Homo sapiens: one gene and its partners. The protein of the gene in region 2 purifies or fractionates together with the protein of the main gene of each other region. This does not show direct contact. Each region holds a gene or a part of one and is shown on either strand. Other genes may lie near its edges.

Region 1 (2,501 bases), on a different chromosome or scaffold from region 2:
AGAATTGCTTGAACCCAGGAGGTGGAGGTTGAGGTGAGCTGAGATTGCGCCATTGTACTCCAGCCTGGGCAACAAGAGTGAAACTCCGTCTCAAAAAAAAAAAAAAAAAATATACAGCAGTATACAGTCATGTCTGAGGCCTTCACATTCACTCATGGCTTACTCATTGACTCACCCCAAGCACGAGTCCTCCAAGCACTATTCATAAGTGGTACAGGTGTACCATTTTTTTATCTTTTATACTGTATTTTTACTGTACCTTTTCTATGTTTAGATACACAAATACTTCCCATTGTGATACAATTGCCTACAGTACTCAGTACAGTAACTTGCTTGACCAATTTGTAGCCTAGAAGCAATAGGCTATATCACATAGCCTAAGTGTAGTAGACGATACCCTCTAGATTTGTGTAAGTACAGTCTATGATATTCACACAATGATTAACGATATTACCTAGTGACACACTTCTCAGAACACATCCCAGTCATTTAGTGACATATGACTATATATGGGAGGATGGGCATGGGTTATATGCAAATATTTCACCAGTTTATGTAAGCGATTCGAGCATCTGTGGATTTTGGTATCTGTGAAGATCCTGGCACCAATCCCCGATAGATTCTGAAGGATAACTCTACAGTGTTTGAATCCATTTTGCTACATTCCAACCAAATGCCTGTCCACCTTAGACTGACACCTCAAGGATCCCAAGGTGCCCATTTCAGCTCCCAAAATCTTGGTTAGAAGGCGCTTCCTTAAATCAAATAAAAGTCTGTCTCTCTGTAGCTTTCCATCATAGGTATTCATTCTATACTCTGGGACAGGCGGCTTGCTCACTACTTAGCAGTTGCATGACTTTGGGTAAATTTAGTTAACCTTTCAAACTGTTTTCTCATCTGAAAATAGGGATAATTAAAGTATTGATCCCACAGTGTTTTAAAGATTAAATAATATACATAAAGCATTTAAGAGAGTACGCATTCTCTAAATGTTGGCTGTTGGGTTATTTTTACTGCTTGCCTACCAAATTAAGCTTATTTGGCAACACATTGTATTTTCTCCCCTGCTCTAAAATAACTGCAAAAGACTCTTGGCATTCAACTGCGGAAAATTTAGGGTTTTGTAAGCAGGCCCAAAAGTGGCCCTGGGCCTCCTGGCTACCTGACAGTCCTCTGGAAACAGCAGAGTGACCTTTGACCTGATGTAAGTATTTAACAGTCCCACCTCACCCCTAAACATTTCCTTGTAAAATTGGTATGTGTCTACTGCAACAGTGTTTTTATTAATACATGCAGGCAAATAGAGGGAAAAAGACATATATTTTGTGTTTAGCACAAATTTGAATCACTCTGCCAGATGGCATCAGAAGTTAGTCACTTAACTAGTAAGATTAGCCAACAGCTTAGCATCTGCATTTCTATTGTAGTATTTATAAATTTGGCAATGCCTTAGATTCCTCCCAATTTTATGTTGTGGTCAGCACTTCCCTAAATTACACATTGCTGCCCCTCACCATCACCACCAGTCCATTTCAGATATTTGATTCAAGTCATTTATAGCTATTTTTCTTCTCCAACTCTTAAGCCATATTCCAGAAACACGGATCCAAATTTTGAAAATATCTGAATTTCCTAATAAGCAAATATATACTGCTGCATCCTTATTTGATGTAGCATGTGAATTACATAGTGGGAAGAGATATCTACACTAATGTGACAGTAGAAAATAGGATGTGGTCAAAACCACTACTTGATTCTACCTTAGAGCTTCAACTGCAGTTTGCATTTCTTCTCTGATTAGTACCTTGGGCAACTACTGATCATGGCCTACACCTTCCCCTTTTGGATTGGTCAGCCCATTCCTAATGAAGTGTCACCTGAGGAAATCCAGTCTGCCTTAGGCCTAGAGATTTGAGGAGGGTTCTGTACATCATTATTCTACTTAAACCTGCTCTTTATCTGATCCTGAGCCCACATGAACCCAATCTATCACAGGTTGACCCAAAAATAGGTATTCTATCCTAAAATCACCTTTCTCTCTTAGCAAGAGTTTGCACATCCTTGAGAGGCAGAATGGCATTGTAAGAGTATAGGCTCTAGAGCCACACTGCCTAAATTTGAATCCCAGATTTCAGTTTTAGTTGTATGGCCTGTGTGCCTCAGTTTCCCCATGTGTAAACAGAGATTACATTAGTACCAAACTCAGATAACATTAGTACCAAACTCATGAGATTGCTGGGCAGATTAAATGAGTTAATACTTGAAGCAGTTTTGATCATCTTTAAATTATATTTTGATTTCAGACTTAATTTCTTAAAACACAAAAAGTGTTACATTCAATTCCTAATGTGATTTAGCTCACTCAATCTAATTCCAAAATGATTTGGTGCTTAGCTTGAGCTCCATCTTGTGGCTTTACAGCAATTCTCTGGAAAATGTCAGTCAAAAAGATGACAAATTTCAAAAAAATAAGCTAATTATTTAAAAGATAAAAGGACTAT
Region 2 (3,753 bases):
CCTCCTGGGGGGCAGTGCTGACTGGGAGTGCAGGTGGGGAGCGGTGGGGGGGGACAGGGAGGAACAGAGACTCAGGCAGGGGTTCAGGCCCAGAGGCCCCGACCCAGCCCCATGTGGGCCCTTGGTACCTATGGAGCGGGAGGGGGGCGGCGCCCCTGCCTGTTGCCACTCCGTGGCCTCGGCAGCCAGGCGCCTGATGTAAGCGTCCCCCACACACAGCAAGATGTTCTCGGGCTTGATGTCCGTGTGGATGATCTTGCACTTGGTGTGGAGGTAGTCCAGGCCGTGCAGCACCTGCAGAGAGTCGCACCTGACCTCCTCCAACTCCCGCCCAGGCCAGGCTGGGCAGCCCAGTGGGTGGCACTCACCTGCCTCACGATGCTCTTCACGCAGGGCACGGGCAGGCCCTGGTAGTTGGACTTGATGATCCATTTGAGGAGCTGGTGGCCCAGCACCTCCAGCACCATGCACACATCTGGGCTGGGAGTGAAGGGCGGCCAGTGGACACCAGCTGCGGCACAGGCCCCACCCACCCTCAGCTAGGGGAGCAGCAAGGCTTGGGCCGTGTGGAGGTGGGGAGGCAGGGCCTCCCCTGGGCAGTCCTGGTCACCATTATGCTGGTGTCATCATCGATAGTGTCCCTGTCAGTCTCAACAGGTATGCCAGTTGGGATGGTGCATTTTGTGGTCATCCTAGAGGTGGCGCTGGAGGAGCAGGCACAGAGGCCTCTCGGGCCAGCCCACTCCCATGCTAGTTATGCCATAGGGCCTCTTGGCAGTCCCCCAAAGGGAAGGCAGTGCCACAGAGACAGCACCTGCCGTTTGGGGATAATAGCAACGTCCATGGACAATCAACGCTAGCTTGTTACTGCCTCCACGTAAACACAGTTACCTGGGGGCGGGGTCGTGCCAGAGGCTCCCGTTACTGGGAGGGATGCAAGCCCATTGTGCGGGTCTGCAGACAGGCTCTAGCAGCGAGGGCCCCCCCATTTGCCGGCCCTTGGCTGCCACACTGCTTTGCTCTTCCTGCAAAGGATACGGACTCCATTGACTCCTGAGATCCTGAAGTCATCAATGAGCTGGACAATGGTCTCTCTTTTGGGGTCACTGGGGTCGCTGTCCCGGACCTGGAGCAAAAGCCAAGGGGCCACAGATGGTTCCACCCTGCCCTGAAGCCCACAGCTCCCTTCAGTGTACCCTTCTCCTGCTCCAGCTGGGCCCTGCTGGAAGAAAGGCCGCCAACCCCTCCTGTCCCTCGCCTGTTCCTCCAGATCCTCCCCCTTGGGCACAGCCAGCTGGAGGCTGCCCCTCAGGGAGCCCCGCCCTGCCCCACAGAGCCCCGGCAGGCCTTGCACCCGCATTGCCAGGCCCCAGGCAGCTCCAGGGGAGCTGGGAGTGGGGTAGGGAGGTGCCTCACACATTTCAGGAGCTTGATCTCATCCACAGCTGTCTCCGTGTAATGCCCCGCACTCTTCACCACTTTGAGGGCCACAAAGCGCTTGCGCCTGCAATACCGAGACCCTTGTAGGCTGTGGCCCTGGCAGGACCCACGGCGGGGATCAGGGTGGCCCCAAGCAAGCCCAGGGACAGGATCCCAGCCAGTGCTGGGCCCCGGAGGCGAAGGAGGCACTCACTGGATGTCCCAGCAGAGCCAGACGGTGGAGAAGTGGCCCCAGCCCAGTTTGCGCACCACGTGGTACCGCCCATTGAACACGTCGCCGATCTTCACAGGGTGGTAGCCGCCTGCCCAGGGGAGATGTAGATTGGGGTGGAGGGGGTTCTCACTCCCCTGGGCCCCCGAACACCTCGGCCCCATTGACCATCTGGCCCATGTGGGCCCAGGACTGCCCTGGGTCCCTGCAGTGGCCGTGAGGCCGCATGTCCCCAAGGCCAAGTCTCACCCTTGCAGTAGTCTTTGGGGTCTTCCTGTTCCTCGTCGTCGGAGCCCAGAAGGCCCTGCAGCATCTGAGGCACCGGTGTGGCCAGGGCTAGTTCGGAGCCCGAGGACTCGGGCCCGCAGGAGGCCTGTGAGCTGCGGGTGGGGTGAGTGGCAGTGGGCATGAGAGACGCCAGGGGCTCCGGGTGCCCCAGCCGAGCCCTACCTGCTGCTACTGCCGCCGCTGCCGCCGCTGTCCCCACCACCGCCCGTGCTGGCGCTCATCCCGGCCACGCAGCCCGCAGCTCCGGTGCCCCGGGCGGCTGCTCCTGTGGGGCCCGGCCGCGGCCTGCGAATTTATAGCCTTGGCCGGCCGCTGATCTCACCCGCCTTTATAAATAGCCTCCCAGCTGCTCGGCTGTGGGCAAGGTATGCGGTGCGGGGAGGGGGCGGCGCGACGGCGGCCCCAGAGAGCCCGGCCCCCGGGCAGAGGCCCCCCTCCTGCTCCAGGCCCACCCTGGAGGCAGAGGGGGCTGCTGCTTGGGGACCAGGGGCAACTGGGCCCCCAGGCTGAGCCTCCGCACCCCAGCTGAGGGGGAGGTCCACGCGGGGGTGAAGCAGCCCGTACCCCAGGTCGGGCTCCCGTTCTCCGGTGCGGACTGTGGGGATGTGCTCCACTTGGCAACCTGGTCCTTAGGCCAAGCCCCCACCACCTGTGCCCCTGTGGGCATCCTCCTGGAGGTGCCCTTCTCATTCCCATGGGAACCCTGTCCCTGGCTGCTCCCAGCCACTTCCTGCTTCTTCTATGTTTCATCAGCCCCTAGGACAACTGGGAGTCCAGTGCCCTCTGAATGTGGCGTCACTGGGGACCCCTCATTTCCCCTACCAGAGGCAACAGGCCTGCTGAGGGGAGGCCTGGGAGCTTGCCAGCCCAGAACCTGCTCCTGCGACGCTGCCTGGCGCTCTGGCTCCCAGCGCCTGCTCTTCCTCTCCACCATTTGCAAGGTGCCTGTCGTGGGCTGCTCCATAGCCAGACATGAGGGAGGCAGCAGGAAGCTGCTCACTGCTGGGGACAAGCAAGCCCATAGCCACTTCCCCATGAGTGCGGTGGTGACTGAGGGGCCTGTGACCCAGGGGCTGCATCATGAGAGACCAGGAGAAATTGGGTCCCCAGAAGCATCCAGGGCAGCACAGGGCACAGTGGGGCAAGGCCTGCGGCCAAGACGCGTTCCAGCCCTTCACGTGCTGGCCACGGCTGCCGCATGGTTCGAGGGCGAGGACTAGAGGCCTGGTGTCTGTAGGCTTAATGTGGAGCTTGGGTGATATGGGGTTGGGGGGTGGTCACTGAGCTTCTGCTCAGCAAAAGATCACTCTGGCCACTTCAAGGACAAGGGAATGGAGAGGCGAGGGTGGAGCCGGGAGGCCAGCTGGGGCCTGACAGAGGAGTCCCAATGAAAGGGAGGGGGCTCGGCAGAGAGGGTGTTTGTCCCAAGATATTGGTGCAGTGTCCCTGTACCAGGGTCCGTGAACTGGTAGGGGTGGGCCAGGCATTGCTGGAGGGGCCAGCGAGGTCAGAGAGTGGGAGGGAAAGTGAAGCCCGGGTACCTGATGGCCTCTCTTTGTCTGTGGGTAGCAGGTTATAGGCATGGGGCTGAGGGACTCTCAGTCAGGAGAGCACTGAGTCAGCTCCTGCAGGGAACAGCAGGGGCTGGGGATTGGGCCCTTTGTCAAAAGACATTTCTGGCCAGGCGCGGTGGCTCATGCCTGTGATCCCAGCACTTTGGGAGGCTGAGGCGGGCAGATCACCTGAAGTCAGGAGTTTTGAGACCAGCCTGTCCGACATGGGGAAACCCTGTCTTTACTAAAAATACCAAAATT
Region 3 (3,653 bases), on a different chromosome or scaffold from region 2:
TTGGTGCATTCACAGACCCTGAGCTAGACACAGGGTGCTGATTGGTGTATTTACAATCCCTGAGCTAGACATAAAGGTTGTCCACATCCCCACCAGACTCGGGAGCCCAGCTGGCTTCACCCAGTGGATCCTGCACCGGGGCTGCAGGTGGAGCTGCCTGCCAATCCCATGCCGTGCGCCTGCACTCCCCAGCCCTTTGGTGGTCGATGGGACTGGGCGTCGTGGAGCAGGGGGTGGCGCTCCTCGGGGAGGCTCGGGCCGCACAGGAGCCCATGGAGGGGGTGGGAGGCTCAGGCATAGCGGGCTGCAGGTCCCGAACCCTGCCCTGCGGGAAGGCAGCTAAGGCCCGGTGAGAAATCGAGCGTAGCGCCAGTGGGTTGGCACTGCTGGGGGACCCAGTACATCCTCCGCAGCCACTGGCCCGGGTGCTAAGCCCCTCACTGCCCGGGGCCGGCAGGGCCTGCAGGGCCGGCCGGCTGCTCCGAGTGCGGGGCCCGCCAAGCCCACGCCCACCTGGAACTCCAGCTGGCCCGCAAGCGCCGCGCAGCCCTGGTTCCCACTCGCGCCTCTCCCTCCACACCTCCCTGCAAGCTGAGGGAGCCGGCTCCGGCCTTGGCCAGCCCAGAAACGGGCTCCCACAGCGCAGCGGTGGGCTGAAGGGCTCCTCAAGTGCCGTCAAAGTGGGAGCCCAGGCAGAGGAGGTGCGGAGAGCAAGCGAGGGCTCTGAGGACTGCCAGCACGCTGTCACCTCTCAAGAAGAATCCAGGTGGGGCTTTGTGCCTTTCCCACACTTTGGCCATTCCGTCCTCCAGGCCTGCAGCACCCATAGCTGCGATCTCAGCCTTTCCCAGGGAGTGGAGGTCAGTGGGGCAGATCCTGAGGATGGGCGCACACTCCTGCCTCGGCAGCTTCCAGGACTTCTGTTTCAGGCCCAGCCCACGCTGAGCTCTAGTGTTTTAGTGAGATCATGGCTGGAATCTTTCCTGCTTGTCTGGTGCCCAGCATTTTGCCCCTGTGCTCGGCCATCGTAGAGCCAGAAGAGCCAGTGCTTCCTCTGTCTCTCATTGGAGGAAGCAGGCCTGTCCTTAGCTTCTAGCTGCTGGCTTTCCCCAAGACTTCAGCTCTGTGATGGCTGCAACAAAAGTTATGATGCTGTGGGTTATCTGGTTTCTTCTTAACTGGTAAGAGCAGGAGTGATGCACTTTCTGGCTTTTTACATTCTAGGTGGAAGCGGAACTCCAGCATTTGTTCCTGGGGGTGCACTAGGATGTGTTGGATTTGGATGTTGTCGGCAGCTGTGTGTTGTGTGAAGAGCAGGGCTCTAGAGTCAGCTAGACTTGGTTTCAGTCCTAGGCCAGCCACTTGTTGCCATTTCATCGCAGTCACGTACCTCTTCCAGTCTCAGCTTCCTTATTCATAAAATCAGAAAAAAAACACCGTGTTGGAGATGTGAGATTAAATGAAATACATAAAATGTCTAGCTGAGTGTCTGGTATATATTAGGCATTCAGTAAATCACAGCTGGTTTAATCAATACAAAAGCATTAGTATAGTGTATTATTACAGAATGCCATCAGTCATGTCAGGCACTATTTTCCAGTTCCCTTCTTGATGATACTCATTTGTGTAGTAGCATTTTTCTTACTTCAAAACAGTAGGTTGATGTCTTCAGGGAAAGATCTGTGTTCATTACTAGGTCCTTTTTGCTAACTCCTCACATCCAAATTATATCACCATTTTGCAAACCTAGTGACTTAATGAGTTTAGGCATTTAGTAGCAGCAGCTGCAGTCATTGACAAAAGGGTAAAAACCAGTCATAACATGACTCCCTGGAAAGAACACAACACCCACCAGCAGTCGCGACAAAGGGGTCATGTCTGAGTCTGATCCATCCTTTTGATGCAGCTGCCAGTTTACAAGAAATATAGAGGACAAAGGTTTGTGTTAAACTACTTGATGAGCTTGCAGTCACAAAATCCAGGCTGTGGGGAATTCTGCAGGCCAAATAGTGAGAGATAAAGAGATACAGAGAAAACTCTGTAAATTAAACAAGATTCAAAAGACATATCAGGTCAAAAGTATAGACAAGACCAAAGTATGATGTCTAAGAATAGACACTTGGTTGATAAAACCACAAAGATGTGCAGGGAAGTAGTTCCTATAAAAATGGGAATGGTGGTTGCCTTTGGAGGGAAGGAGGGGCTGCAACGGGAAAGGGCCACAGAGAGGCTTCTGAGTGGGCTACAAGGCACGTTGAGCTGTTGTTAATTCACTCAGCTATACGTAGTTTGTGCACTCTTCTATATGGGTGTTTCACAGTAAAGAGGAAAACTCACGTCTTTCACAACTGTTTATATGTGTGTTAGATACGGACTGCAGCTAAGATGTCAGTTTTTAGTTCTTGTATGGTTCTCAGGGATTCATATACATGGTTCATCTGTTTTCTCATGGTTATGATTCCTAAGAAAGTATGGGTTGTGTCTCCACTAATATCTTTATAAGTTGTGTGTTATTTTTTGAGTTATTACTAAATATTTATTCAAAGAGATGAAATGTCCACCCAGGAATTCTTGTCATGTGTGTTAAGAGTTGAAAACAGCTAGATTTTTTTCTAGTGACTTTGAGGCTAAGAAATTTACCTTGTCTCTCTTTTCTTTCTTTCTTTTTTTTTTTTTGGTGTAGACGTAAAATTCATCCTGATCAGAAAAATATTAATGCCTATGTTGTGTTTAAGGAGGAGAGTGCTGCCACGCAAGCATTGAAAAGGTAATTTTATCCCTTAGGTTTGAACAGAATAATTGTCCTATAAGTATGTATGAGTACTTTTTTTATTCTTTGGTTTCACTTTAGCATAGATGTTTTAGTAATCGAGTGCTCATTTTTAACAACCATTTTCCCTTTGTATTTATAATACAGAAATGGGGCCCAGATTGCAGATGGATTTCGTATTAGAGTTGATCTCGCATCTGAGACCTCATCTGTAAGTAGTACTTGATTTGTTTAAAGAACGAGAGCTTTGTAGAGAGAAATGTTTCCTTCCAGGCTTTTCCTGGAAGGGGACTGGAATCAGCAATGTGAGGGAAGCGCAGAAGGAAACAGCCTATGTCCTCTGTGGTTACAGAGTTGATGGCAAGAGAGGCACAAGGACCGAGGTCAACATTCCCTTCAAAAACGTAGTCCTGGCTGGGCACAATGGCTCATGCCTGTAATCCTAACATTTTGGGAGGCCAAGGCGGGAGGATCACTTGAGCCCAGGAGTTAAGAGCAGCCTGAGCAATGTAGCAAGACCCTGCCTTTACAAAAAAAAAAAAAAAAATTAGTCAAGTGTGTGATGCATGCCGACAGTCCCAGCTACTCAGAAGGCTGAGGTGGGAGCACCACCTGAGCCCAGGAGTTTGAGGCTGCAGTGAGCTGTAGTCGTGCCACTGCATTCTAGCCTGGGCAACAGAGGGCGACCCTGTTTCTTAAAAAGAAACAAAAACATAGTCCTCTTCAAATAAGCATAATTAGGTCAGAAGGTACATTAGACATCATCTGGTCTAACACATTATAGACCGAGGTCTAGAAAGTTCAATTATTCATTAGACAGTTTTTAGTACACACTCTGTCAGAGATGCAGTTCTAAGACATAGTCTCAACTTCCTAGGAGCTG

The links.
Region 1: the proteins of SRPK3 (region 2) and LLPH purify together in Homo sapiens (affinity purification with mass spectrometry; 2 studies listed by BioGRID and IntAct, with this or other methods). This does not show direct contact.
Region 3: the proteins of SRPK3 (region 2) and RBM34 purify together in Homo sapiens (affinity purification with mass spectrometry; 2 studies listed by BioGRID and IntAct, with this or other methods). This does not show direct contact.

What each region holds. Positions count from the first base shown.
Region 1 is NC_000012.12:66,118,272-66,120,772, forward strand, and holds part of LLPH (protein LLP homolog), read right to left. Parts: 3' UTR 1-2,501. UniProt on the Homo sapiens protein: In hippocampal neurons, regulates dendritic and spine growth and synaptic transmission.
Region 2 is NC_000023.11:153,779,494-153,783,246, reverse strand, and holds the start of SRPK3 (SRSF protein kinase 3), read right to left. Parts: upstream 2,207-3,753; 5' UTR 2,161-2,206; coding exon 2,102-2,160; exon of another isoform or gene 2,032-2,101; coding exon 1,901-2,031; exon of another isoform or gene 1,743-1,900; coding exon 1,634-1,742; exon of another isoform or gene 1,505-1,633; coding exon 1,417-1,504; exon of another isoform or gene 1,127-1,416; coding exon 1,039-1,126; exon of another isoform or gene 476-1,038; coding exon 369-475; exon of another isoform or gene 295-368; coding exon 129-294; exon of another isoform or gene 22-128; coding exon 1-21. UniProt on the Homo sapiens protein: Serine/arginine-rich protein-specific kinase which specifically phosphorylates its substrates at serine residues located in regions rich in arginine/serine dipeptides, known as RS domains.
Region 3 is NC_000001.11:235,137,205-235,140,857, reverse strand, and holds part of RBM34 (RNA-binding protein 34), read left to right. Parts: intron 1-2,683; coding exon 2,684-2,767; intron 2,768-2,917; coding exon 2,918-2,981; intron 2,982-3,653.